Homo sapiens: one gene and its partner. The protein of the gene in region 1 purifies or fractionates together with the protein of each later gene. This does not show direct contact. Each region holds a gene or a part of one and is shown in the gene's direction. Other genes may lie near its edges.

Region 1 (3,819 bases):
GCCTGCCTCAGCCTCCCAACATGCTGGGATTACAGGCGTGAGCCACTGTGCCTGGCCCCTGGTACTGTTTTATGACTGGCTTCCTTTACTTGATACCATATCAGGCAGTCTTGATGTGCTTCATGCCACATAGGCACATTTGGACTTCCTTCATTCTTTTTTGTCTTTTTTCCTTTTTTTAATTTGGACTTCCTTCATTCTTTTTAATGTTTGCATATCACATCCTAGAATGGATGCATCCTGATTTATTTGCGCTACTTTCTGTCTTTCACTATTACAAGCAGTGCTGCAGTGAACATTATTATCCCTACCACCCTGTAAACATTTGTTTACAGTTCCAAAGATTTATGTAGGTATAAATGAACATGATATTTTTTATTAGATATTTCCAAATTACCTTCCAAAAAACATTGTAACAGTTTATACTTATAACACCAAGTATTCTATCGTTGCTGCAAGGTCTTCATCATTGTTTAGTCTTTGCCAATCTAATAAGCAAAAAAATGTTTCACTTTTCAGTTTGTATTTATTTAACCATGAGGGAAGTTGAGCATTTCTTTATACTGATTACTGTCTTTCCTGTGAATTTGCGGGCATCTCATGCTTGTTTGTGGTGATGTCCCTTTTAGCCCAGAGCTGTAGTCTGGATGCTTCCCTTTCTGCCAATTTTCTGGGAGCTCTTCAGTGCCCTTCTGTGGGAGCCCATTGAGGTTTTTGTGGAAGCAGAGCTCTAAGCCTGTGTGTTCCGGTCTCCACCAGGTGGCCCCAATGTCAGTGTATGCTTGTCTGGGCAATGATGCGGCTGCCATTCGTGATGCCTTCCTGACCCGATTGCAGAGCAAAATTGAGGACATGCGCATCAAAGTCATGATTCTAGAGTTCCTCACTGTTGCAGTAGAGACCCAGCCAGGCCTCATCGAACTGTTTCTGAACCTGGAAGTTAAGGATGGCAGTGATGGCTCAAAGGTAAGCCTGTAACCTGGGATGACACTGGGAGTTGGCTCACTGGGAGGCAGATGCTGGGCTCTGCAAGTACAGCTGCTGGCAGTGGCTGTGGAACTGAACTCTTACCTGTCCCTTCTTGCAGGAATTCAGCCTTGGGATGTGGAGCTGTCTCCATGCAGTGCTGGAGCTGATTGATTCCCAACAGCAAGATCGATACTGGTGCCCACCCCTGCTGCATCGTGCCGCCATTGCCTTTTTGCATGCTCTGTGGCAGGATCGGAGGGACAGTGCCATGCTGGTCCTCCGAACCAAGTAAGTCTGCCTCTGGGAGTAGTTTCATTGTTCTGGTCTATAAAATGGGAGTAATAATAGCTCTTATCCCAGAGGTTTGTTGTGACAGTTCACTGGGAATAAGAGTGCTTAGTCCTGGTTCAATACCTGGGAGTTTTACACTAATTCTCTTTCTAATGCTGCTGCAAGTATTAAGGATCTTTAAATATTAAGCACCTGGAAGGTTCAGTTGCTTTTGTGTTCCTGCCTTTTGCTAACTAGCTGCATCAAAACTCATTATTCTTGAGAAACAGTAGATTCAGGAGAGAGGCGCTTGCTCAAGTCACTGGATTGAATGAAACATTCCGTTCTATTGGACCTGCTGGCACAAAGGGAAGGAGTGTTAAAAGGCTAAATTTGGGAGTCTGCTGTCTTATTTCCCTCCCTCCTCTTCTGTGGGGCTTTTGGGAATCTACAGTGGAAGGAATCTTGAAGAGTTTTTATTGATCAACTCTATAATGCATAAGTGTGATTCATGAGAGGAAAATGTAATTTTATCTATGGAAACCTTTCATTTATACGGGAACAACTGACTTATCAGACACATATTAGGATTGAGACTGGTAAAATATGAAGTGACCACCAAAGGGAGCTTGAGAGAGGAGAAAATGACTGTGAGAGGGAAAAAGTTATGATTTCAAACATTTATTTCCTTTTTAGACCCAAGTTTTGGGAAAATTTAACCAGTCCGCTGTTTGGAACCCTTTCTCCTCCCTCTGAAACATCAGAGGTAAGCTGTGGCAGAGGGCAGGATGGTGGCTACAAGTCCCTTGGAGGAAAGGCTGTGGGCTGTGAGATGGGGCCGTAGACAATGATACCTCCCCTAATTAAACAACAGAATGTTCCCTTCACTAGAAACGTCTTTCTCAGGGAAGTGCCAGCTTTCTGTCCCTTTGATGTCTTGCTTTGGGAAGGAAAGTGGTTTGCGCTACTGTGTGTTGGTGGCTCTGTGGTCTTCTCCATTCAGTTGGAGACGTTGTGGACCTGACGCCTCTGCTCTTGCAAGTCAGGACATTCACATTCAACAGGGGTTGTGCTAACTTGTTCTGCAAGTGTTGGGCCCCTGCTCTGTTCCCTGTTTGATATACTGGGGGAGATCAGTGATCAGAGATGTGATAATTGCCTGTTCTGCTATCTCCACAGCCCAGCATCCTGGAAACCTGTGCCCTAATCATGAAGATAATTTGCTTGGAGATATACTATGTAGTAAAGTGAGTACTTTCCCCTCTTGAGATTTTAACTGAAGGTTGGGGGAGTGGGAGTTGGTGGCCTACCACTGGGTGCATGGCTGGAAGAGCCAAGGCAGAGGAGAGAACTGGTTTGGAACCATTCATGGAAGGCCAGTGAGCTGTGTTCCTGGCCAATCCACCGATGGCATTTATGATTGTCAGAAAGAGTTATTGTGAAGCAAACTCCATGCAACTGGGATTTTATGGAGGAGGAATCCTGGAAAGGCCTCAGCCTAACCCACACGTTGGAGGTGTCCTGGAGCCGTCTGCCTTTAAGCCCATGCAAGGTCGTTTTCTCTGCCTCAACAAGGGTCTGTACCCATTATATTCCCATCTGCTTTCAAAATCTAACTGGAGGTTTTTTCTTGACACTGTAGGGGTTCATTAGACCAGTCATTAAAGGATACACTGAAGAAATTTTCCATCGAGAAACGCTTTGCCTACTGGTCAGGGTATGTCAAGTCATTGGCAGTTCACGTGGCCGAAACAGAAGGCAGCAGCTGCACCTCCTTGTTAGAGTACCAGATGCTGGTGTCCGCCTGGAGGATGCTTCTCATCATTGCCACCACTCATGTAAGACCCTTTTGGGGAGAGTTTTCACTTTGGTACCTTAGCAATGATGTGTTGACATGAGCCTAGCAGATACAGCTCCTTGTGCGGAAGAATTAATCAGGGTTTATCCCTGAGAGCTAAACTGTAATAGGTTCTATGCTGAGAGATTGGGACTGTGGGGTATTTGAGGGTGTTGGGTCCAGGAGACCATTAAGAGGAATGCAGAGAAGTGATTTGAAATCCTTTCAGAGTTCCTAAAGCCTCCTGTACCTCCCTTAGGCCTTGGCTGGGTCTTAGCTGCTCCCTGGCTGCATCTGCCTCTTGTGCAAAGGCATAACTGTCTTCTCGTGCTGTGTACCTTGTAGATGCTAGGTCAATAAATACTTGTTGACTAGTCAGCAGGGAGCTGTGACAGCTGCAGCAGCACCCTCTCTAAAAAGCAGTTTGTCATTGGTTCTAGAAACTGCATTTCCTGGTCTTAGAAAAAGAACAGAGGCCATTGTCTCTGTACTCTGTCTACTGGGAGTTGGTTTTGAGAGAGAGAGATAACATCTGGAAGAAATGCATTGTTCTTGGCTTTTTTGTGGTTTGACTCCGTCACGCTGTATCATAAGGACTTGGTATTGAAGTGTTCTTTCTTGGGGTATCCAGATTAATTTTTTTTTTTTTTTCTTGAGACGGAGTCTTGCTCCGTCACCCAGGCTGGAATGCAGTGGTGCGATCTTGGCTTACTGCAACCTCCGCCTTCCGGGTTCAAGGAATT
Region 2 (3,819 bases), on another chromosome or scaffold:
AGTATGCCTTTCTGTTTGGTTCAGTAAACCAATATCATTCAGGCCCCCCAACCTTATAATTTCTTTTTTTTTTTTTTTTTTGAGACAGAGTTTCACACTGTTGCCCAGGCTGGAGTGTGGCGCGATCTCAGCTCACAGCAAGCTCCGCCTCCCGAGTTTACACCATTCTTCTGCCTCAGCCTCCCAAGTAGCTGGGACTACAGGCACCCGCCACCACGTCCGGCTAATTTATAATTTCTTATGGAAGATATATTTGAACAAAATATATCTAAGAATAAATTGAAATAATCCCCTGCCTCTTTCCCACCAATATTTTTCCCCTTTCCTGAAGCTACCATTTTTATGGTCTACTTTTGATGCTTCTAAAATATAAGAAGTAGCTTGGGGCCAAGGGGACAGCAGGATAAAAAGACCCCAGTTATTTATTTAAGACTGTTACCACATGAGTATGTGAATATATTTAAGAGCACAAAACATATCAACTAGCATTATGTGAATTAGGATGCTTTTGGCTGCAATAAGCAGAAAAGCCATCCCAGAGTCACTAAACAATTTTTAAAAAAATAAAAAGGAATCACTCCATGTCCCAAGTCCCAAGGGACGCATCTGTAGCCCCTTAATAATAAGAGGCTCATCTTTCCCTTCACCGTCCTCAGCATGTGGGTTATCCTCAGCTAGCATGTCTCACAGTCATAAGATGGCTGTGCCAATTCTGGACATCCCATGCCAAAGAAATGATTACTGTTCAGCAGAAGCTAATTAACTTTATTTTATGTTGTGTCTCTTGTACTTAACAGTAAGGAAACGTGTCCCATGAACTCTCTAGTAGACTCCCCAATATCTTGCTGGAGAGACTTAGGTCATATAAATACCTCTCTAAACCAGTCTTTAAGCAGGAGGATGGTCTTATTGTGAATGGCTCCAGCTAGTAGTTTCAACCTTCACTACACATTAGAATCACTTGGAGGAGGACTTAAGCTCCCTTGATGCTTACAATGTGCAGCCACAGTTAGCCTACATCAGGGTTTCTCAACCTCAGCACTATTGATATTTTGGCTCAGATCATTGTTTTAGGGGCTGTCTTGCACATTGTGGAATGTTTAGCAGCATCCTTGGCCTCTACCCACTAGACGCCAGTAGCACCTCTCCAATTGTGACAGTCAAAAATGTATACAGGCATTGCCAAATGTTCCTTGGGGGTTAAGGTTGCCCCAGGTTGCCCCACTCTCTTAAACTAATTAGCGTTTACCCTTAGGTCTCACATGGGAGAGGTGGACATCCAATTAAATTAGTACTCTGCCAGCAGGGAAGGAAGAAATGGATGCTAGTAGGTAACCAACAGTGTCTGCTGCATGGAGTAAGGCTGTTTTCAGTTTAGAATCTTTGAAACTAACATGAGGTAGCTTCTGTATGTTTACTATTCTCAGGTGTATCATCTTTGTAACACTGGCAATTGGAGATGTTCCTGATCACCTGTGGCACCTATAACCCTTTACCAGCTTTCCAGCACTTGGTGACAGTTTGTCTCAATTGTCCATAAATTGACACTTGGATTAGCCTGGTCTGTCCCAACAAGATTATCAGCTCCTTGACAGCAGGGATATGCCCTCTCTTCATGGTGTATTCCTCATGTCATGTTAGAGATGCAGTAGGTATTTAGCAGTTATATTGGTTCACTGTGTATTCATTGAGTGTTTATTATGTATAAGGCAGTTTAATTAAATTTCAGTGCGTTGAAATACTCATATCTGTGTATTCACAGCTGCCAATGTCTGGTTAGTTCAAGGAAAAGTTACAAGGACTTCATCAAGTTCTACTTTACTAAAGAGGAAGAAGTGAGCAAGACCTTGGGGTGGGGAGAAGGCCCCTACGTTGATCAAACTTTCAGGCCCTTTAGAGGTGATCCTTTTGACACATAAACGACAGACACACACTCTCTCTTTTATACAGCTTGATTCAGGTGAGCATACATGTCCATAAAAGCATAATATTTTTTAAAAGTTAGATCAGAATATATCTTTTCCTGTCCTGTTAGGTAATTGTTGATGAACAGCACTTGGATTTCCTGTTGGCATATACTATTTCGGCTATTCATCAGTGTAGTTCCTGGACACACAGGGAAATTCTTCAAGCCCTGGCAGCTCTGGTGTACTGCAATGGCTCCAAATGTCAAAAGGTAGTTTAAAGTGCTTTATCCTTCCTTTGAAAGGCCAGGAGCACAGACTCTGGTGCCAACACTGTGTTCAGGTTTCTATCTTGCCACTAATCTCTAGCAATTCTTATTCAACCACTCTGGGCCTTGTTTCCTCATGTATAAAATAGTTACTCTGAGGATGAAGTGAGACAATACGTGTCAAGTTCATGGCCCTCGGTAAATAGTAAACATTATTCTTAATATTATCATTACCCATCAGCCATACGGCCACACTAAAGAGCATCAGCAGCTACCTAGGCTGGGAGTAATGATCATTATTGATGCTTTTTGGCATATCTTTGCATATCCATCGGAGACATTTATCTAACAGCTAGTCTTTTGGTGCTTAACTGCCATTTAGTTAAAAAAAGAAAGAAGAAATCTGTCTAAAACATAATATTTTCCTAGAAGCTTTTCTTTGACCTACATTGACTCTTATTTTTCTTAGTACCTCCCAGAGCTGCTAGGCAACACCGGACTCTTAATGAAGTTGAGTGACTTGGCTCAGTCTGATCCTGAAGTCAGGAGAGCTGCAGTACATTGTATGGCAAACTTATGTCTCAGGTATGTGGCTCCAGTCAAGTTTCTCAATGGTAATAAGATAGTGCCTCTATTGGGCCCTTTGTAGGTAGTTCCCTGTGCCTGAAGCCAGAGCCAACTTAGACAAATAACTAACTTTGCATTTCCCATGTACTTTACTAATAAAATCATCTTATGTTGTTTGTTAATTTTAGTATTGCTTGTAAAGAAGGAAAAAATAGACTAGGACCATATTCCTAAAATGTGGTAATAGTGACATAATGTGCAGTATGTCAAAATTTTGTTTTCTATTGATATAAATTCTAAGCATATTAAGTTTTTAGAAGGATATATTCATGCAAATTTTAAGTGCTGGTGAGATGTATCTGTAAAGGGCAATTTCTTTTCTTTGAAGAAGATGGAAACAGCCCCAGCTGCTCACCCTCGATTCTCACAGTAGGCAGTAGACAATGAGCAGCACAAATGTGAACTCGTCTCTGCATAGCACAGTGCTGTCCAGCGAGTAGGAAGGCAGGTACAGATGTGTGATTCTAGCTTGACAGGACCTGTCTGGATTATTTCCCTCCTAGGACTGAACAGCAGAACTAAAACAAGATTTTTCTTTCTCCATAGTTCTTCTACCACAAACTTCTGTAACCTTTCTGTATGGAAACCACCCTTCCTCTATATTCATTCTAGCCCTGTGCCTGTCCCCCAGCAGTAACTAATTAACCAAAATAATAATTTTCCATAGCATAGTTGCACTCAAGGGTATATTCCAACTCTAATAGTCTATATTACTGCTATTTTTAATTAGTCTTTTGCAAGCCTCATTTTAAAGGAGACTGAGTTTGAGTTGTTTTCTCTGTATGCGTTTAGTGTGCCAGGACAGCCGTATTTGGAGGAGCCCTACCAAAATGTCTGTTTCCAAGCTTTTCTGACTATTTTACAGTCTCCAAAATCATCTGATATGGATGATATCACATTTTGCATGGTAAGTGGACTATCATTGACGTAGTGAATGTTGCGGATGTGTCTAGAAGCAGATTGGAAAAGTGTTACTAACGAGTTTAATTTGCACCATTAGCTTCGTCTAGAGAAATACA

The links.
Region 2: the proteins of NUP188 (region 1) and HEATR6 fractionate together in Homo sapiens (co-fractionation; one large-scale study listed by BioGRID). This does not show direct contact.

What each region holds. Positions count from the first base shown.
Region 1 is NC_000009.12:128,992,438-128,996,256, forward strand, and holds part of NUP188 (nucleoporin NUP188), read left to right. Parts: intron 1-759; coding exon 760-966; intron 967-1,087; coding exon 1,088-1,257; exon of another isoform or gene 1,258-1,597; intron 1,598-1,935; coding exon 1,936-2,005; intron 2,006-2,418; coding exon 2,419-2,486; intron 2,487-2,881; coding exon 2,882-3,077; intron 3,078-3,819. UniProt on the Homo sapiens protein: Component of the nuclear pore complex (NPC), a complex required for the trafficking across the nuclear envelope. Required for proper protein transport into the nucleus.
Region 2 is NC_000017.11:60,072,103-60,075,921, reverse strand, and holds part of HEATR6 (HEAT repeat-containing protein 6), read left to right. Parts: intron 1-2,035; coding exon 2,036-2,176; intron 2,177-2,642; coding exon 2,643-2,758; intron 2,759-3,592; coding exon 3,593-3,707; intron 3,708-3,819. UniProt on the Homo sapiens protein: Amplification-dependent oncogene.